2 linked regions of the Homo sapiens genome follow. The protein of the gene in region 2 interacts with the protein of the main gene of each other region in a biochemical or structural test. Each region holds a gene or a part of one and is shown on either strand. Other genes may lie near its edges.

Region 1 (10,967 bases), on a different chromosome or scaffold from region 2:
CTCGCAGAGCTGGTCACCAGGCTCACGCGTGGTTGTTTATGCAGGACCCTCCTGCTGTTGCCCTGTGCTGTGGCCTCTGATCCTGGCCTGTCTGGACATGGTGTGCTTTCAGGGTTCCCGTGCATATTAGTTTCCACCGTCTTCAGGACATCAGGGAGGGGGTCCAGCGGTCCTCAGTATGTGCGTGCTCACTGAGTGACAATGAAGGACGGAGCACAGGGGTGCTGAGTGGGCCTGTCTACAGGGTTTGCTGGGACCAAGGCACGTGTGTGGGACCTTGCACTCAGTGGAGGATGGGTCTGTGACTGTGGTGACATGGAGAGGCCTATATTAAGAGAACTGTTAACTGCTCTGGCCTGAGCAAGATGTTTGTAGCCTCTTCCACGTGCTGGTCTGAATGTGGGTGTTGTCCCCATGCTCTGCAGAGAGCAGAGTCCATGCTGGACCCTAGGAAACAGCTTCAGAAGTCCATGAGTGGGTTGCTCCAAATGCCTGGTGGACCACAAGAGCAGGTGCCAGGGCCAAGAGGCCATGGGAAGAGGGGCTGGACAGAAGGCCCAGAGCAGGCTCAGGGGGCTTCAGGGTGCGGTCTGGGGCCTCCTACCCCTTGCAGGCAGGGCCACTTCTCAGCAGGCACAGTGGAAGCAGAGGCTCAAGGGCAGGAAACAGAATCATCCCAGGGCTTTGAGGCCCTCGTGGGTTTTCAAACTGCAAGCAACAGAGTCAGCCTGTGGCGCCCTGCACCGCCCCGCCAAGAGGTCCCCTTCAACCAGGCCTGGCAGCAGCTCTAGGTCCACTGCCCTAAGTTCCACTTAAACTCGAGGGCATTACGTTCCAGGATCTCTGCTACATGATTCATCCTCATCCTGTCACATAAGCCCCCTGCAGAGCCCCCGATAAGCCACACTGAACAATGCGGCTCAGCATCACTTCCGTTGGGAAATAAAACAGAAAGTGTATTTTCAGCCTTGGGTAGGGAAGAGTCTCAGTGTAGATTTAATTAAAGTGCAGCTATTATGACACATTTCAAAGCTCCTCTGCCTGCACACCCTACACTGCCCACTTTCTGTCCCAGGACCTCCCAAAGCCATGGCTGGCCATGGGGAGCCCCCTCAGGAAGGCAGGAACAGAACTGCACTGAGGAGCTCTGCCACCACTCCCAAGGGAAAGGTGGCCCAGCGGGGCAAGAGAGTAAGGACTGGGAGCGAGTGGGACCAAGACAAGAGGCCTGGTCCCGCCTTCCTTGAGAGCAGGGCAGGGTGGAACCCAGCCTCGCTCCTCCTCAGGGGCTGGAATGGAAGCCAGAGAACAGCACATGGCACTCTCGGCCCGGCTGTCCTCCTCCCTGCGGGCACAAGTGTGCCCTGCCCCGGAGGCTTGCCTGTGCCTGAGGTTCAGCCCGGCTGTCCTCCTCCCAGCGGGCACAAGTGTGCCCTGCCCCAGTAGCTTGCCTGTGCCTGAGGTTCAGCCAAAGGCCCATGCCTGTCACACTTAGCTCCAGTCTCCACTCCAGGCCCTATCACTAACAGTAGTGATACCTGGGCCTCCATTTTTACTGTTTTCATTCTCTCCCTGTTTGAAACCCAGGTAGGAAGGATGGATGTTTTAACTGGGGAACTTCTCAGACACCCCGACAGTGTGGTAGAAGAGAAGGGCTCTGGGTTCAGATGGACCTGCTCTGACACACACCAGCTCTAGGATCTCGGCCACGTTCACGACCCTCGGCCTCAGTGTCTTCATCTGTAAAGTGACCGCGGGCCTGACCTACATGGTCACTGTCAGAACTGGAGACCGTGTCGGGGAAGCACCCAGCACCTGCCAGGCCGTCCACGACAACAGACGGCTCCGGTTCTAACATGCCGCCAGGCTGCAACACTCACGCTTATCATTCATAAACCTCCGGCAGAATTCTTGAAAGGTGCCTCGGTAGCTCATGGTCCGCAGAGAGCGGTGGAACTGATAATAAGACACCACCAGATCCTTGGGGTTGCGAGCCATATAGATGACCTGTGGGTGACAGGAGCAGGATGAGTCCGTGTCTCCTTCCCTCCCAGGCAGGGCTGCCCCGACACAGGCCAGCCTCCCTGAACCTGCTGGTGCACCTCACAAACCAACACCTGCTTCCAGCGTCCAGCTGGGGCCCATGTGCACGGCTGCTGGGTGCTGCTGCTTCGCTGTTTCAGCAGAAAGGTGCCCTGTCCATGCAGTAGAGCTGGCCAGGAAAATTACTTGAGCATTTTATTTCTGTCCTCTAGAACTACTTTAAAATCTGCAGAAGACAAAAAACTTACAACCCTGATCCTGGTGGTAAGAACACAGGCCTCTGGCCGGGTGCGGTGGCTCGCATCTGTAATCCCAGCACTTTGGGAGGCCGAGGTGGGTAGATCACCTGAGGTCAGTAGTTCAAGACCAGCCTGACCAACATGGTGAAACCCTGTCTCTACCAAAAATAGAAAAATTAGCCGGGTGTGGTGGCACATGCCTGTAGTCCCAGCTACTCAGGAGGCTGAGGCAGGAGAATCGCTTGAACCAGGGAGGCAGAGGTTGCAGTGAGCCATGCCACTGCACTCCAGCCTGGGCGACAGACTAAGACTCCGTCTCAAAAACAAAAAAACAAACAAACAAAAAAACCCCACAGGCCTTGGCATTTGATGCAATTGAAAAACAAAGAGAATTCGGCCCAAAGCAGGTACACGCCTGCTGGCCTGCTTTGGATTAGGCTGGCCACAGCCATGTTTGACTGTGAGGTAAAAACCAACCCGTCGTTAAAAACTTGGGTAAAATGCTAGAGACGCATGACCCAAGACCACCTCAGAAGGGATCTTCACGTGTGGGCTCCTTGGGAAGACAGCCCCCAAGGCCAGGTAAGTGCCAGGGACCTGCATGTGTATTGCACAGGGACCTTGGGCTCCTCTTGGTGGGGACTCATCTCGGGAGGCAGAGGAGGTGCCAGCTTACCTTGGAGTCTCCATTGTGGAGGTCAGAGGGCAGAAAGCGGTAGGGCAGGTGGCTCTTGATGAGGCGGGGAGAGGTCAGTTCCTGCGTGGAGTCAGAGGGAGAGGCAGGTCAGAGGAAAGGGTGAGACCAAGGGGAGGAGTGGGGCCAAGGGGAAGGGGGCCAGAGGAGGAAGGAAGGGGTGGGGTTCAGGGGAAGTGGAGTTATCAGAGGGAACGGCGGGTCTAGGGTAGCGGAGGGGTCAGGAGAGCGTCAGGTAAGAGGGAGGGGTGAGGCCAGAGGGAGGGGTAAGGCCAGGAGCAGGGGGACCAGAGGACGAGGGAAGGGGTGGGGGCCAGGGGAGAACGGTAGGGGTCAGAGGGAAAGGTGAGGCCAGGAGTAGGGAGGGGTCAGAGCAAGAGGAGGCAAGGCTGTCATGCCCTGGTCTCCTGTCCTGGAGAGAGTCTCGGACCCAGCCAGGACAGCCTCCCTTGTCACCTGAGACAAAGATTGGAGACATGAGCACACCCCGGCTGGACCCTGGCGGTAGAGACAAGGGTCCTTGACTTTGGCCTGGGGAGTCCACCCATCATAGCCACAGCCACAGGATCTGCTCAGGGGGCCTGGGAGCTACTGCCCCGGCTTGGAGTGGCGTCGGAGGGCAGCAGAGGCAGCAGGAGGCACCAGCCCCAGTGGGTGCTGCCAGGCTGGCGCTGGACCGCACAGCAACCTGGCCTGATGCGCTCACTGCTTCCACCTGCCCCTCGGGCCTTCCCATCAGCAGCCAGGGTTGTCCTGTAAAGCAGCCAGCACCGTGCTCTCTGCTCAGAGCCCGTCTTCCCAGCTGCCCTAGGAATGGGCCCAGCCCTCATGAAGCCAAAGAGCCCGGAACCGTTGCCTGCAACCCCCAGGCTTGCCTACTGCTCTGGAAGGCCAGGCCCCTCGTGCCGTGGGGTCTTTGCTCACGGGTCCCTCTGCTCCTCTCCTCTTTCAGGACCTGCCTCAGACATCCCCAGAGGAGACTGCTGGTCCCCCCCTGATCTGCTCCCCTCCCAGCGCTGATCGCTGGCTAGCTACTATGGCTTCCTGGGCTGAAAGGCCGGGCCTGATGCTGTCAGTCACTGCTGCCCCCAATGCCAAGAGCAGTGCCTTGAACGCGGTGGCCCTCGGCACGGCAGTACGGAACGACTCCCAGATGGTTCCGCACGGACAAGGAGAGCAAAATGGCCGTTCAGGCCCGAGAGGCTGGGGTGCAGACAGGGGCCCTGGAGGGCCACAGGGGTCTTGTGCCATGGGGAGGGATGGCACTCTCAGAGCATGACACAGGGTGGGATGGCACTCTCAGAGCTGGGTTTTGGAATGCTGCTCCAGAGGGAGGAGGACAGGTGTGGTGGAGGCTGCAGTTCTGGCCCATTCAGGTGTGAGGCTGGAACTAAAGAGGTGCAGCGGACGGGGTGGGGGTGCCTGTGGGTGTGTCTGAGGGGTGCGGGGAGCAGGGCTCTGGGGTAACATTTATTCATTCTTGATACCAAATATTTGATGCAAACACATCCTACCCAGCTCCCTCAGAGGAGGGCCCCCAGGGGAAAGCGAGGGGGAGGCCCAGGGCCTGCTCCCCACAAATGGCCCCTCAGCCCTGTGCCCCCCAGGCATTGACTTCCTTTCCACTTCACAGACTCCCTGACGCTGATGTGTCACCCACGCCCTCATCGGGTTCCAGGTCACTGCCAGCTCAGGCCTGCCAGCTTCTCCCCTGGCTATCTGGGGCTATCTGCTCTCCCCTAATCCACAGAGCCCCCAGGAGCAACTGTCAATCATCAGGGTGTAACGGTAGAAATACCCTAAAGAGGTGCTGGGACAGGTGCTGCTGGCCCTGGGTACCTTGATGATGTCCAGGCCCGGCTGTGGGTACTCCAGGACCGGGAGCTGCTCGTCGATGTTCATCAAGCCGATCTCATCGGGGTCAGCGCCCTGGCTCACCAAGTAGACCACCTCCTGCAGCAAGCTGGTGCCTGGAGGGGAGAAGCCCCAGCGCGGGGTGCTCAGAGGAGGCCCACGCGCCCGGCCCTGTGCTCGGGTCAACACCTGCTGCCCAAGAAGGGGCTCAAGAGCCCCAGGTGGGGCCCAGGGCGACTGAGTCTGGGAAGAGGAGCGCGCCCCGCACGGTCTCAGCCTGAATCCCCCGTGCTGGGTCATGGGCCAGTCGGCTCTGATTCTCAGAGGGGCCAGGATGCTTCACAGGGCTGTTAGGAGAACAGAACAGAACAGAACCCAGCCCCTGTTATGGAAGTGGCTCAGGGGCTGTAACAGGTGGGTGACTCGGCCCAACCTGAGGCTGAACTTGGCAGTTTACGCAGGAATGATGGGTCGGGGGAATGACCCGCTAGCCAAGATGAGGAAATGACGTCTGCCCAGTATCTACTGAAGCTATATACACATAGCCCATGATCCAGGAACTATCCTGGGGAGACACCCAAGGGAAGCCAGTGCTTGTCCACCAGTACGCAGGTTCTAGAACAGTCTTGGCCACATCATTCATAAAGTCACTTGGAAACACAAATACCCATCAGCAATAGAATGAGTAAGTTGTGACAGTCACCATGGTGTACTACACAGCAACAAAAAAGAATGAACTGCAGACATAGCACGGCCAAGCCCCACAGATAGGATGTGACGGAACTGCAGACACAGCATGGCCAAGCCCCACAGACAGGATGTGACGGAGTCCTCCCACCCCAAGGCGCTCCAGGGTACAATCCTGTATGTCCCATTGGCATGAGGTTCAAGGATGGGCAAAACTCAACTATAGTGACAGAAGTGAGAACAGTGTTTATATTTTGGGTTGGTTACTGATTCAGAGAAGACACAAAGGCGATTCCGGGGTCTAGAGCTATTAACTGGGTCTGGTGGGAATTACATGGAAGCATGCTACATTATGATATGTGCTGGTTTCCATCTATGGCTCCTGGCTCATTATCCCCCCAGCCCTTATTACAGTCTTTTGTCATAATATTGGACCACTCCAGGCCTTAGAAGCAGGTCTCAGTAAACAGCATCTCTCTCTCTCTCTCTCTCTCTCTCTCTGACCTTCTCCTGCCCCCACCCCTTTCACCTGTTCCTTTTTCTCCCCAAGGCAGGCCATACAAACTGAAAATATACTTGAATCTTCCCCCGCCTTTCTGTCTTGGAGCTGGCTATGAAGAAACTCTCTGGGCTGGGCACAGTTACTCATGCCTATAATCCCAGCACTATGGGAGGCCAAACCGGGAGGACTGCTTGAGGCCAGAAGTTCGAGACCAGCCTGCGCAATATAGCAAGACATTGTCCCTACAAAAAATAAAAAATAAAAACATTAGCTGGGCATAGTGGCATACATCTGTAGTGCCAGCTACTCAAGAGGCTTAGGTGAGAGGATCGCTTGAACCCAGGAGGTAGAGGCTGCAGTGAGCTGTGACTGCACCACTGCACTCCAGCCTGGGCAACAGAGTGAGAATCTATCTCAAAAAACAAAAAGAAAAATTCTCTGACCTGCCTTTTCTGACTGTGTGGGTCATGAGACCCCCAGTTCAGAAGGGGAGGAAGGAATGTCGCACAGGCAGGCCTTCCTGGGCTCCCCACTCCGACTGACAGTGTTGGGCTCACAGCCCTTTTGTCCAGTCCCATTTCTACATGCTTCCACCATGCCTAGCCAATGAGGGTTCCATAAAAGGCCCAAGAGGACAGGCTTTGAGGAGCTTCCAAAGAGCTGAACACATGGGGGTTCCTGGAGGGTGGCTTGCCCAGAGAGGGCATGGAAGCTCCGTACCCTCCTCCATCCTCCACAGACGTCTCTTCCTCTGGTATTCATCAGAAGCCTTTGTAACATCCTTTATAATAAACCAGGAAATGTCAGTGTTGCCCTGAGTTCTGTGAGCCGCTCTGGCAAATTAGTCAAACGTGGGCAGGGAGGGTGTGCGAACCCCAATTTATAGCCAGTGGGTGAGACACACAGGCAAAACAACCTGGGGCTTGTGGTTGGCATCAGAACTGGGGGCAGTCTTGTGGGACTGAGACCTCGCCCCGTGGGATCTCGTGCTGTCTCCAGGTGGGCAGTGCTGGAATTGAACTGGACTGGGGGACATCCAGCTGGTGCTGCTGCAGGACTGAGTGCCTGCTTGCTGGCGGGGAGAAATCCCCAGCCTGTCCGCCACAGGAGGCCTCTGTGTTGACTCTTGTGTGAGAGCAGAGGAAAAGCGGTTTGAGGGCTTTTCTCCAACTGATACGCACATGTAAGATATAATTCAATTAAAAAGAGACAAATCACCTCCGCCCGCCAGTGGCCTGGTCAGCATAACCTCCTCTCCTAAGACTGTGGGGAGATGTGGCCAACGGGAAGAGCCTGGGCAAGCCCAGCGTGCCGTGCCATTAAAGGCAGGGAGAGGCCTGCGGGGGAGCTCGTGTGTGCTGAGGACACCCTGGCACTCACTCACAGGACCACAGCTGCCCACAGGGCTAGAGACCTATGGACCAATTCTCCCTCCTCACAAATCAGCCACGCGGCTGAGCCAGGCCTCCTGCCTGGGTCTGGGAACCGTCCCTCTAGGACAAACAGCACATTTCGCACTCAGGTCCGACGGCCTCCAGCCCAAAACCCTTCCGTAGCTTCCCAATGTTCACACACTCAGGCCCAGGCATTCAATCATTTACTGAGGCCCTCTGAGCTCTGCACACCTGGTGCGGGGTCCAGGCTGCACCCTCCTGGGCAGGGCCAACCACAGCACTCTCCGCTCTGCCTGTATGCTCCTCCCAGCCTCAGCCTAGGCACAGCTGTCTCAGAGCCCCTGCCCCTTCAAGTCGGCCTTTTCTGATGGCCGGGATCACCTGCAGTGCACACCCTGGGATGCACGGGACAGGCCCTCTCCTCCCTGCTACGGCCCAGGGGAGCAGGCACTGTGACCGGCTCCACACCTGGTGCAGGCAGGAGGAAGCGGGGCCCCGCCTGGACCACACATGGGGCTGACCACATGCACTGGTGCCTTGAGTGCAGAGTCCCATTCGAGGACCCTAGGGCCAGGCAGGACACCCAACCAGAAGTGTGCCGGGACCAAAGGTAACTCCCAGGGAGAAAGGCGGCCCTCTGCGCCTTCTCCAGCCTCTATTCCCAGGCCCAAAAACAGCTCCAGGTCCCCAGTGATTCTCAGTCATCACCTTGTCTGACCTCCCAGAAGAAACGGGCACAGCTTAACCCACTGTGGTCCCTTCATATCGGCGGCTCCAGTTTCTGCCACTGGCTCCTCATCTCCCCGCCCTGAACGTGGTGACAGCCCGGAGTGCAGCCCTGGTCCCCTGCCCCCAGGCCAAACCCAGGTCCACCCCTCCACACATCAGCCTCCGGGGCACATGCCCACCAACTCCAGTACCTCACCCGCTGCCCAGCGCCTCAGTGGGACCCAGCCAGCTCTGGGGGCAGCATCCAAGGCTGTCTCCTCCGCAGCATCCGCAGCCCGTCTCAGCAAGCAGCCCCTCCAGCTGACAGAGGCTCAGGCCGGATGGTGGCCTCACTGTGGCTCACCCGGCTCCTCTCCTCTGTCCTTGCCTCAGTGAGCCCCGCCGACCCTGCCGTCGGGTGTGTCCAGAGCTGACCCTCCCCCTGTGACACTGCGTCCTCACACCTGAACTGCTTCCTACGAGGGCTCCTCCCTGGCTCTCTGCTGCCACCCAGCTCACTCTGCCTTCTAGTCCAGGGGTCCCCAACCCCCAGGCCACGGGTCTGTGGCCTGTTCCGAACCGAGACGCACAGGAGGAGGCGAGCACTGGGCGGGAAAGCATTCCAGCCTGAGCTCTGCCTCCTGTCAGATCAGCGGGAACACGAGATTCTCATAGGAGCACAAACTCTATTGTGAACTGCACCTGCGAGGGATCTGGGCTATGTGGTCCTCATGAGAATCTAACTAAACCCCGATGATCTGAGGTGGAGCAGTTTCATCCTGAAACCATCCCCATCACCCACCACCTGGGTCCATGGAAAAACTGTCTTCCGCAAAACCACTCCCTGGTGCCAAAAAGGTTGGGGACCACTATTCTACCTGTTTTCAACCCAGCGGCCAAAACTGTGGCTTTAACATGGAAGTCAGACTCCACCACTGTCCACTGCCGCCGTCAGGCAGCTCTGCCTCCCACAGAGTCAACGCAAGGCCTTCACCATGTTCCACTCCCTCACCACCTGGCTCTCCCCTGAGCTCCCTCCAGCCTCTGAGCCCAACCGGCCCTTCCCCAGGCTGCCGACACTGGTGTCCCTGCCTGGAGCCTCCTCACTCCCTGACTCCTCCCTGCGCCTGCTCAGATGCCGCTCAGTCAGCACAGTCTCCTTCACTAGCTGTGGGACTAACTCCCGTCCCTCGCCCTGTCATGCGATTCCAATGTGCTATCTACCTGCCCAGAAAAAGCCTGCAAATTCTTTTACATGCTCTCTCCTCTTTCCACCTTAAGGACAGAGGCTGTTTTGTCTTGTTCTTTGCTGCACCAGGAGAGCCAGCATGTGGCCATGCTCAATTCATATTTCCTGAGTGGACCGACAAACGCTGGTTGCTGCATAGACACTGAGTAATCAGAAGGGGATGTGTTGATCAAGGAAGACTTCCTGGAGGAGGGAGCTTTGGAGCAAAGGCACTGAAGGAAGGAAGTGGTCTGGCTTGGTGATGGAAAACAAGCTCTTTTCAATACACACAAAGAACTTCTCAGCCCATGGACTCTCCCACCAACCTGAGTAGGAAGTACCACCATCCTCATGGCAGACGAGGCTAAGGCCAAAATGTGCCAAGGGTTATAGAACCAGGGTGTGGCTGCCTTGCCTGTTCCTCCTGGTGAGGACCATCCACCCAGCAGCTCAGGACAGCTGCAGTGAGGGGGTCTTTGTCCTTAGAAATCAGACTGTGGGCAGCGTCCCTGAAATGGGCCTCTCCCAGTGACATTTTCATCACCTATTTTTCACGTTCCCCACCCGTGCAGCCCCGCAGGCCAACGACCCAGACAGACCTTCTCTGCACGTTAAAGTCTTCTTACATCAATATCGGCCACTTCAGTTCCACAAGTCCCGTCCTCACCCCCATTAAATATTTATGCCAGAATATCAGCCAAAGGAAGCTCTTGACTCGTCAGGTCCACCCGGCCCTGTCCCCGTGGCCCTTCTCTCCAGCCTGCCACATCAATTTCCTGGTTGAACACCTCCTGACCTTACGTTTTCCAGCTTCCAGGAGAATTCAACAGCAGGTCAACGTGGGCATCAGGGAGGGAGGGGCACCGAGAACACACACCACGAAACACGCAGGGAACAGGCCCCGGCCTTCCTAGGGCATAAAGCCAGCTGGCAAGATGTGATAACATGATCAAAGAAAAATGGTCATTATACTATCTGGTCACTTACCCCATTCCAGGCACACTTCTAAGCACTTGGAACCAAAGATCAAACCCAGCTTTGAAGACAGCCCTAGCTCTGCAAGGCCCTCTGCCAGACGCCAAGCTGTGGCACCCAGCACTCCTCCCACTGGTCTCTCTCCATGCTCCTGGTGGTGCCCTTGGGCATGGGCATGAGCCCTGCACAGCCCCTCCACCCACCCTTGCTGTGGCCATCTGCACCCAGGGGCTCCTGAGGTCCCAGTGATGTGGCCCTGCCAGCCCTCCACCCACCCCCTCTTCTCTGGCCAGCCTCCCACCCCCTTCCAAGCCCAGCGCCCCAGTGGCCCAAAGCCTTCAACAGGCTGCCCTCTGCCTGGCCAGCTTGGGCTTGCTCTGTGGGTCACTGCTCGCAGGAAGCCCTCCCTAACAACACGCCTCTCGATCAGGTGCCCCTGCCTGGTCCCACAGAGCCCTGGACACTGTCCTAGCACACTGTCACGCTGTGCCTGGCTGGGGCAAGCCCTGTGAGGGCAGGGAACTGGTCTTAGTCACTGTTTTAGTTTCCTGGGGTGCTGCTGGAGATCACCCAAAACGTGGTGCCTTAAAACAAAAGAAACGTATTCTCTCACAGTTCTGGAGGCCAGAAGTCCCAAAGTCGA
Region 2 (10,967 bases):
CATTCTGCCTTTTGTGTGTGAATAGAGAGTAGAGGCATTTTTTTCCCCCAGTGCCAAAACTTTTGCATTTTTGCTTTCATTTTCTACCTGTAGGCCTTTTATCCTTAGCCACTCATACAAAGTGTTGCATTATCACATTGTAATATCCATGCGAGAAAATGTATGTGGAAATGCTTTAGGACAATGTTGCAAGGTGTATTAATTTAAAATTATTATTCTTGGATGCTAACATTTCTGTAATATTTAATCAAATCAAAAGACTGCTAGAGAAATGTGATGGGGGGAGTAAAAGAGTTCAAGCTCTGAAAGAAATAAAAAGACACACACACATCTGGGGGTAAAGGTGGCATCTTCTATAAACATCCCTGGAAGTTCTAGACAGAAAGAATGTCCAGTGCTATTGAAAGTATATTCTCCATTTGTCATCATTTTTGGAGAGCATCAAGCCCAGTATGCCCATGGTGCTAGACAGATAAAGCAGAGTTGTAAGCTCTGGCTTCCAGGAGCTTAGAGATGGCTTTTAAGATGTGCAGCCCATCCCTCCCCTATACAGAGCACCATACTTACCGATTCTTTTTCTGTGCATGATGGCAACCTGATTGTAAGATGTTCTCCCTCAATCTTAGTGCTTTGTCACTGACTCAGTGACCTGATAGCACATGACTAACTCTGTATCTAAGCATGTCATCCAAGAGAGAAGTTGGCCTTGGGTCTGTTGGCTTTTGGGGGAACATTTATTTCTGTTTGTAACCACAAAGAAAGAGAGCTGCCTTCATGTTTTCTTGTATATTACATTATGCAGGCAAGAGAAACTTAGCAAGCTGAGAAAATGCCCAGAGTGGAGCTATGTGTACAGGAGTGTCAATTGTGAAGTGAAGAAATCAGTTAAAAATGGCATTCTTTATTGTTTTCAGGGCCCTGGATATTACCGTTGTTCTTATTTTTATTCCATTTTTGAAAACTCTGATTCTGGATAGAATATCTAGGTTCACATAGTCAAAAATAGATATGAGTTTATAGCAATGAGATTTCTGGCATGTGAGAATCAACCTCTCAGATTTCTTTCTCTTTCTCAAACACACACACATACTAATCACACTCAAAACTAACAAACCTTTATTTCACAGAAGCTTCTAGGTTTTAAAATCTGATCTTAGAGAAGGTATGAAAAGAAAAGGAAAATAGAACTTAAACGATGTAAATACCAGAAGTTGGATAGAACAAGAAGTTCCCTACAGTTTTGACCTATTCGTTTCAGGGAAGATTCATGCAATTTTGTTGCCAGAGGGGGAAGAGTCCCTGTTCTTCCAATGAATTCCTTAAGAAGTGTTAGTATACCTTGAAAAAGCACCAGATCAAAAGACTTTTTAAAAATTCTCCTCACTGGGGACTTGCCCCACAAGTTTTCTTCCCCCTTATTAACTTATACCCTCTTACTGGGTGGGGAATTAGCTTCTAGTCCTTCCATAGATCTTGCTTTTCTGTTTCCTTTACTATTTCTACATTTTCCTCCTACCTGCTCAGTTATGTCAGATTGTTCTTTTTTTTCCTCCAAAATATCTCCTTCACATGTATTTCTGAATTTTTCTTCTGTTTGCTCAGATCATTCCACATTGCAGTGTTCTATTTAAAGCTGAAAGGTTTTTGCTGTGTAGTTAGTGTGAAGGACTCTAAACTCAATTTGCATTGTAAGTGGTGACTGCAGGCAAGTTCATCCAGCTAAGAGCAATGCAAATGCTAAAGGACACTTTCACCCAAGCTCCCCTCTCTCAGTCTCTTTCTCTCTCTCTGTCTTTCTCAAAAGAATGCATGGTGTGCATTTAATAAATAAATTTCCTAGGACTTTTTTTTAATTCTGAGCATGAAAATTACCACCCTCCCCTACCTTTCCTCCTCTTTTAAAGTTAACATCTTTGAGCATCTTCTATGTTCCAAGCACTGTGCTGAGCTCTTTATGTATAGCATTTCAATATATCTAAACCCTGTTAAATGGATGTTGTCATTTCCATTTTCAAAGAAGGAAACTGATGCAACTGAGGTCTGAAGATGTTACTAATTTGCCAAAAGTCACACATTCAATGGAAAACCTTGTCTTCAAACTCAAGCCAGTGTCTGAAGGCCAGGTTCTCCCACTAGGAAATTCTGCACTACTTCATTTTCCTTTAACCATCAGCTCTTATTCTGGGAAAGATTGCAATGGTTTTATCTCAGTGTATAAGCTATATTTCCATCAGGCATAAAATCCTTTGCAGGGAAAATTTGAAGTGTGTGTATGGGGTTATATAGAGGAAGGGCCTTGGGTAGGGTTGAAATTTCCCACAAAAATAAAGTCAACACAATGGTTTGATTTTTTTTTTCAGATATGGAACCCCAGGTTTCCTAACCAGGGATTCATCTCTCAAATCTCTCTATATGTGGGTTTCCTGCTATATTTTTAGGCTTCTGTTACAGCCAAGTAAAACCCTATCTCCATTATAGCAGTCTGTGAGTTTTCTAGATTAATCTTCCTACTTTCAAATGGGGCCACAGATAGACCAAATATTCTACATAGATGGGGTGTTTTAAAATAACTGCTCTGTTCTCAGTTTCCTTAGCTGGAAAGTGGGAATAACAATAGAACCTATGCCAAAGAAAAATTATTTGATGCAGAGAAAGCACTCAAGCACTCGGGATATGCCTAATACAAAGCCCACCCTTAATTCATTATAGCTGTTATTGTTACTTAATGTACTTCCTGGTTATATTCTGGCAACAAGTGGGTTCCACCTTCCCTCAGAAGCCTTTTTAAAAAACTGTCTTGTTTATACATATTAAAGGAAGAACAAGTTTACTATTCCAAGTAGCTCCTTTCAATTATTGATTCATTCTGCCTTTAATTCCTTCAACAAATACTGACGTTTTGCAGAGGTGATACGGGATGTTCCAATACAGACGTGGTCTCTGTCCTCAGGGATCTTTCAATCTAGCAAAGGAGATAGTATGAGACAAATAATTTTGCAAATAAATATATAGTTACCAATTGTGATAAGTGATATTTAGGAAAGGCACAAGATGCCTTGGGGTCATAAGGTGGAAAGGTGGATCTAATTTAGATCGGGAGTTCAAGGACAGCCTCTCAGACAGCTGAAACTGAGAACTAAAGGATGAATTTGCAATTAACAAGACCTGAAAGCATTTTAGGTAGAAGGGACAATAGGTACAAAAGCCCAGAGAGATAAAATAGCCTAACTGATTCAAGGAATGGAAAGATGACTATGGCTAGGAACAGGGAGAAGAGTGATAAAAATGAGAATGGAGTCTGCAGTTCATTTTGAAATGTACCAGAAGCAAGAAAGATTAATGCTAAGAGAGAGGGATGGGTAAATGGATAGACATATGATAAAGCAAGTATAAAATGTTAGTCACTGGCCAGCCATGGTGGTGTATGCCTGTAATCCCAGCTACTCAGGAGGCTGAGGCAGGAAATCGCATGAACCCAGGAGGCAGAGGTTGCAGTGAGCCGAGGTCGCGACACCGCACTCCAGTCTGGTGACAGAGCGAGACTCCATCTCAAAAAAAAAGTTAATAACTAAATTGAGGTGGTGGGTCTATGGATAATCACTGTAATTTTTTTTCCACTTTGCAGTCTGTTTGAATTTTCATAATAAAATGTTGGGGGAAAAAAAGACTGGAGAAGTATTCAGGGACCAGATCATATCAAGCCTTGTTGACCACAAGGAGTTTGGACTCTATCCAAAGATGAATGGAAAGCCATTAAGGAAAAGGGAAACATGATCAGATTTGTTTTTCTAGAAGTTTAATCTGGCTGCTGTGTAGGATGGGGTTAGAGAGCCAGGCATGTAATGAAAAAGAATGAAAGTTGGGAGATAATTAGGAGGTCATGGTGTGCTCCAGGATGGTGGCATCAGTAGAGATGGAGAGAATTAGATGGATTTAAGATACGTAATAGAGAAAGATTGCATTGCACTTACTTACTATGATTGGGTGCAGATGGAGAAGGTGATGTCAAGGACAACTCCCAGAATTTTGCCATGAAAATGGATGCATAATGGGGCGCATCACTAAAAGCGGAAACAGACTGAAAACTGATTAGTTTGAGAAGACAGTGAGACATCTAGTTTCACAGTGAGACTTGCAAGTAGACAATTGGATTTCTGGGTCTGAAGCTCAAGAGAAAGACCTGGACTAGATAATAAATTTGAGATTAAACATCACCAGCATATTAAAGGTACTTAAAACTGTATGAATAGATGAGATGCCTCAGATAAGAACATTTCAGGGCAAAATTTGAACCAATGAGTGAGAAAGTACAAGGAAGTGGATCTTGGCTTGGTATGAAGAAATTGTAGCAAAAAAGTACCTCACAATAGAATAGGGCCTTGGTAAGCATAAATAACCACACACTGATATTATTCAAGTAATACTATAATATATGGCCATTTCTCAGCAATGTGGTAGGATAAGAAGAGTCCAGTCTTGGATGAGTTGAGTTTAGAACGTCTCCAGGTTTGAGATCTGAGTGATTTGTGAAATACATTAGCTTTTTAGGGCCACAGAGAGTAAAAGTGAGGAAGTAAAGATTCCTCCTCCATCCCCCATTCCAAATAAGCTCAAGAAAGGGGAAACTTATAATGAATAAAGCTGGGAAGGTACATGAAAATGGCTTTTGATATGAAGATGCTGGGAAGGCATTGAAAAAATAAAAGGGGGTAGTGTCATATGATGGAGAGCTGCCTCATAGTTCCTTAAGTTGCTTTGGTATTTGTATGCAAATGCCAGATCAGAATGCTGTTTCCAATGCATATGGATGAATGTTTGAGCTCTCTGCTGTTCTCAGAGAAACCTGAAATGCGAGGTGAGAAGTAGCTGCCTTACACTATTGTAAATGACCTTTCTGGGGATGGGAAATGTTCTGCTACTAAACATAATAACCAGAATGCATTGAAAATCACTAGCAAGTATTCATTATTAGCATCCAGGTCCCCAGGGGCAATCCCAAGCCCTTTATGAGTGCTGGTCAGAAATGTACCAATGATCCTGGGGTGAATAATATTAGGCCAGTCCTGTCAAAATATTGGTAATGCCCAATGAAAAGAGCACAGCTGTAGACTGACATTCCTAGACTTTGGCGTTTGCATTTAAGAAGAAATAGGGGTCCAATTTCGACACTTAGCTGAGGGAAAGAAACTAAGGTATCGCGAGTACTGTCTATTCCAGGCATTTTCCTAGGTATTTCTTATGTTTACTCATTTAATCTCCATCAACAACCCAGAGAGAATGGTTGCATTAACCTCATTTTTAAAATAAGAAATTTCAAGGTACAGAGAACCAAAGGAACTTGCATAACAAATACACATGTATTACAAACATACTCACTTGTAAGTGGCATAACCAGATTAGAGCTCATGACTGTGTGGATTCTTGGCACATGTTCTTTGCTCACCCATGCTGCTCAGGATCTTTTGGAGAAATGCAAGTTGTGCTCCACCCTCCACATATATCCCATTGGCGCCTGGTCGGTGCTGCTGGATTTACTTGATCTATCTTCTCCTAGCACAGCAGTGCACGTCTCTGGGCCTTTTCCATTATCCCACAGGGAGGAAGCTGAATTCTACGACCCAGTAACAGAATTCTTAGCTGACTTACTCCTGTAGATTTCTTCTGTTATATAATAAGAACAGAAAAAAATGTTTATGGAATTGAGCAATCAAGATGTGAGAACTAGCTGGAGTTTTTTGAATAGCTTTCTCCATGTCACTCATCCCCAGTGTAGGACAGTAAGCATGCAGCTCCCAGACTGAGCTGAGCTGAGATGGTCCCGCTGGGCCATCTAGGCACCCACTCTTCCCAGCTCATGACAACTCATATAGTTGCCTGGGCCACAGCAAGAGAAATATGACGGAGGCAGCTGTGGGATGGCAGATGTTCTTTTGCACATAAATATGTAGATGTCTGAGGCTTCACTTTGGCCAGAGTGGCTCTCCAGCTGGTTCCCCTCATCTTCCATTAATAAGAAGACGATTTTGCTTTCACCCAACTTGTCATCTTTACCACCAAATTTCCTTCTTTTGACTCCAATAGAACTCTAGAATCAGGCTGAAAGTCAGCCCCAACATAACTATCTCGCAGAAAGCACAGATTATTTTTATAAGTCCACTAGGAACTTTGTCAGAAATAACCCAGGAACCTTTGAGTTCTCCTGCTCCAAGTTCACTGTGGAAAGAGTTAATAGTGGGAAATATTAATTGTTAATGTTCATAGCTTTCTTTGGAGAAAGGGTCATCCTGGGTAATGAGAAAGGGTGTGTGCTTGTATGGGGGTAGTCAGACTTTCACTTCTGTGCTTTAGAGGTAAATGACTTGATCGCTTACAACAAATGTTAAATGAAGTGGGGTGGGGGTCTGTGTGTAAGGGGAAAAAAGATGTATGGAGTTTAGGAATCTAGAGGGGCCCTTATGAACAGGTTTTAACCTGAGAAGGATGGGGTCTGTTGGACGGAGCGTGGCGAAGAGTACCTTACCTGTGGGAGGATGTGTTTCAGGTGTACTGGCCTTTGTGCTTGGTGTATTAGTCAGCTCAGACTGCATTTTTAAAAACGCCACATACTGGGTTGCCTAAATAACAGAAATTTTGTTTTCTCACATTTCTGGAGTCTGGAAGTCCACGATCAAGGTGCCAGCATGGTTGGTTTCTGGTGAGTTCTCTCTTCCCATGTATAGCCAACTTCTTGCTGGGTCCTCATATGGCCTTTCTCCTGTGTGCAAGTGTGAAAAGAGAGAGCGCAATCTCTGGCATTTTTTTTTCTTCTTGCAAGGGCACCAGCCCCATAAGACCTTATCCTTATGACCTCATTTAATCTTAATTATCTCCTTAAAGGACCTATCTCCAAATACAGTCACATAGGAGTTAGGGCTTCAACATATAGATTGGGGTGGAGGGGGGCACAATTTGGTCCATAACACTGGGGAACTGAAAACCTCCTCCATCAAGCATTGCTTATCACACTGGTATGAATCCTTGCTAAGCAATGAACCTGAAGTGGTCAAAGAATGGCAGGCCGCCTCCTCCACTTGACGTAGAAGGATCAGCTTGATGTCCCTCTACAGACACACAAGGGTGTAGAGGGTGGCAAAGCTGTAAATGTCTCTAATAGGGAATATTGTAGCAAGATGCTGCTGAGAGTTCCCAGGTGGTCTGAAAGATAGAACTTGGGTCCCTAAGTACAAAATACCACCAGGAAGGACCCTACCACAGTGGGAGAGCCACACAGGAAACTCAGTGAAACTAACATTGCTTATGTAGCTTTGTAGAAGTCAGGTTAGGGCTAGAGACACTCAAGTTGGGAGGTCTGTTGGTTCATGCCAACTGCATTATTATAATTCACATTTCCCTCTGCCTTTATGTTTTTATTTATAAGTCAAATAATACTATATTCTTTCTTACTTAAAAGGATTCAAGCATGATAAGTAAATAAAGCATGAATCACCCTCCATCCCATGCCCATCCCACTTTCCTACCCAAAGGTTACCATTATCAGTAGTTGGTAGACTTCCTCAGAGCCATCTTTCTATTCATACATTTAAATATACATGTACAGATATATAGTTGGGGAGGATGTTTGCATAAATGAGTACACACTGCCCGTTTTATTTGCACTTTGTTTTTCTACTAGTGATACGTCTTCAAGATTTTTCCATATCAGAACACCTACATCTGTCTCATGCCTTTTAATGGCTGCACGGTGCTCCATAGTATGACAGTACCACAGTTTATTTAGTAGTTCCCTGTGGATAGAAAATCGTTTCCAGCTTTTATATTACATAAGATGCTGCAGTGATTATCTGTGTATATGTGTTTTTGTTTAAATGTCCTCCTTCCTGATTTTATTATCTTTAAAGCTGAGATGACAGTTCCCATTTCTTAGCAAAATGGCAAGAAAAAATCAGAAATCTGTGGTCTTCTATTTGTTTTCTGTGTAACCTTGGATCAGTCATTTAAACCAAGAACCTGAATTTCCTAATGTAGAGAATGAGAATACCTGATCTACCTATTCATATGTGCCCAGTACTGTGTCTTCCAAAACCATTGTGGATTTGAATGTTAATAATTAATAATGATTGCTGGTAGTTATGGAGGGCTTTCTGTGCACCAGTACAGGCTTAGAGCCTTAAAGTATTTTTCTCATGTAATCCAGTTTACTTGTATAGGCTGATACTGTTCTTATCCCCCTTTAAATGAAAAGTTAAAGCAGAATAATATGATTACTAGTCCATAGTTACACAACAGTGAGTAGAACAGAAGTCACATCCAGGTCTATCTGATTCCAAACCCTGTATTCTTAAACTTGGCAAAAATTCATCACAATGTAGTATATGAACACCTGTTTAAAAGAACAGTTATGATGTTGATAGGGAAAAGATGATTCATTTTTCTAAAAAATATTCTTCTGAATCAATCAATACAAGGGTCCAATTTCTACCAAGGATTTGAAAATGAACTGGGGGGAAATGGAAAGGCAATGCAGTATCGTAAGCAGTTATGTGGAATGCACATCAGAAGACCTGGGTAGGATTCCAGTCCTGCTACCATAATTTGTCACTTTTATTCTCTGGGCTTCAGTTTCCTAAGCTACTATAATGAGGTTGAAGATGGGGGAGGGAAGGCATGCTCTCTACAGACTTTTCTGACTCTCAGTTTCTATGAGGCATTATTTCTGTATTTGTGATCATCTAGGTCTCTTTGATATGTTCTGATGTTCACCTCAGGGGTGAGACTGGGAAAACATGGCCATAGGCTTTAAATGACCCCAGAAATTCCAGGTCTGGCTGTACTTCCTGGGTCAAATCATCCTTCTGGCAAGAAGGTTCTGGTGCAGCCAAGAGGCAGAGCCAGAAAGGGAAACTTCTCTTTGCCAAAAGCTGCTGCAGATGGAGGAGCCAGTCTGTCTGGGCAGCCATGACTTTGAGAGGAGCCATTTGGCAAAGTTGTTGGCAGGAGCTGCCTTGCAGCATGAATGCTGGAGACAGTCCTGGGCTGGAGTGAATCAGGGACTCAGCAAAGGTGGCTGGTGGAACAAATAACCATCTGGTGAGCAGGGTGCTGCTCATCTTGCCACACTGATGGGGAAGAGCAAGTGCCAATCAATGAGGTTAAGCTCTCAATGACATGATCTGACAGGCACAATAGAATTTCTCTCCTGTTATTTTATACTCCATGGTGGGGGTTATAAACTCCAAGGGAGCATAATTTTTTCAGAAACCAGGAAGGCCCCAATTTCTTCCACTATTATAAAGTAGGAAAGAAAATTTAACAATTCAAACAAAAATTATTTATTGCCAAGTGCTATGTAGGAAGTTCTGGGGCATATGGTGAAGTATAAGCCTATAGTCTTGTTCTCAAATGTCTTTCCATCTATTTGGGCAGGTGACACTCCGTCCTTCTCAAAATATAATTAACCACAGAAGCCAGGGTGCGTGAAACTGTGTCCTGTTTATCTCTCTGTTATCATGAGGTGGCCGAAGTGGTGGAATCAGAGCCCACCTGGCTCTAGACACACCTCTGGCTATGCTAGTTCTGTGGCCTTGGGCAGGTCACTTCATCTTGCTGAGTGTTTTCTTGCCAACAAAAATATGGCAGGGGATGAGGCAACATGTTACTATTTATATGTGATAAATAAATAAATACAAAAGATTCCCTCTCTACTCCATGCATTTGGGACCAATAGTTGACAGTAAACTTGAAAAGTTAAGGCAAGGAGTCATAAAAAATAACATACCATTTAAATTTACTAATTTCAATGAAAGGCCCGATGAAGAATCAAGACCTTACCTTTGAGTATGGATCTGCTGATTAGGGGTTGTAATATTTTTCTTGCATGAACTGTCCCCCAAATGACAAAGACCATGCCCAATTTTGATTTCCTTGAGGTTGAACAAGACCATAGATATCGCAGAAGCAATCTTACTACAGAATACTTCTAGATTTTTGTAATTGTTCCCCAATTTTTATATCTCCTACTTTTAATTTGACAATGCTTTGTCAAGTCTTTTGAAATTCTTCAACTGACTTTTCATATGAAACAATCATCCTCCTTTTAACACTATTCTTCTCATTACCTTTCATGATATTTAATTAACTAACAAGTATAACTTGCATCAGGAGATTTGGAAACAAACACAAATGACTCTCAGTAAACATGCAACTCAACCTGAAGGAGCAGAAGTTTGCCTATGTACCAGAGATTAGTCTACTCAATTAGCTGTGAGTACTTATAAAGGATGTTGTAGGCCTGTTTTACAGAAAGAATGGAAGGCACTTTTTCTTCTTGGAGTGTCAGCTACTTGGAGGTCTGTTAAAAGGACTTCTGCTGTAATTATGATCATGAGGAAGAGCCACTATATACTGAGTGCTTGCAATGTAGCAGGAATCAGGTTAAGTATTCTGGATGTACTCTATGTGATATACTATGTATTATGTATCTATGGTATACTACATATGATGTATATATGATATAGATGCCTCTGTGTGCATATATATGTGTGTGTATATATATGTATGTATCTGCGTGTGTGTATATATATATAATTTAATCTTCACCACAACCCTCAAAAGTATGTATAATTAGAGCTGAATTAGGTGAGACTTTAGATCTTATTCACCATTGTTTATCCATCTCCTAGTATAGTATCTGGTGAAAAAGCACTCATTACACACTTATGGAGTGAAAGAGAAAATAGATTTCTACTTTGCTGATGATAAAACTGAGGCTTAGAGAATTTGTGTCATCTTTCCCAGTATCAATCAGCAGACCCAGGACTTGAATGCAGGTATGTCTGACATAAAAATATATGTTATTAAGAGCAAACTGACGTACAATACAATAATTTTTCTGTACAAAGTTATTGGACATATACTTTGGATCTCATATTGCCTATGAATATTCTAATAGAATGAAACTTTGGTATTAT

The links.
Region 1: the proteins of PPP2R2B (region 2) and SULT4A1 form a complex in vitro, tested with the Homo sapiens proteins (one study listed by BioGRID).

Annotation. Positions count from the first base shown.
Region 1 is NC_000022.11:43,836,987-43,847,953, forward strand, and holds part of SULT4A1 (sulfotransferase 4A1), read right to left. Parts: intron 4,947-10,967; coding exon 4,816-4,946; intron 3,040-4,815; coding exon 2,959-3,039; intron 2,008-2,958; coding exon 1,881-2,007; intron 1-1,880. UniProt on the Homo sapiens protein: Atypical sulfotransferase family member with very low affinity for 3'-phospho-5'-adenylyl sulfate (PAPS) and very low catalytic activity towards L-triiodothyronine, thyroxine, estrone, p-nitrophenol, 2-naphthylamine, and 2-beta-naphthol.
Region 2 is NC_000005.10:146,866,215-146,877,181, reverse strand, and holds part of PPP2R2B (serine/threonine-protein phosphatase 2A 55 kDa regulatory subunit B beta isoform), read left to right. Parts: intron 1-10,967. UniProt on the Homo sapiens protein: The B regulatory subunit might modulate substrate selectivity and catalytic activity, and might also direct the localization of the catalytic enzyme to a particular subcellular compartment.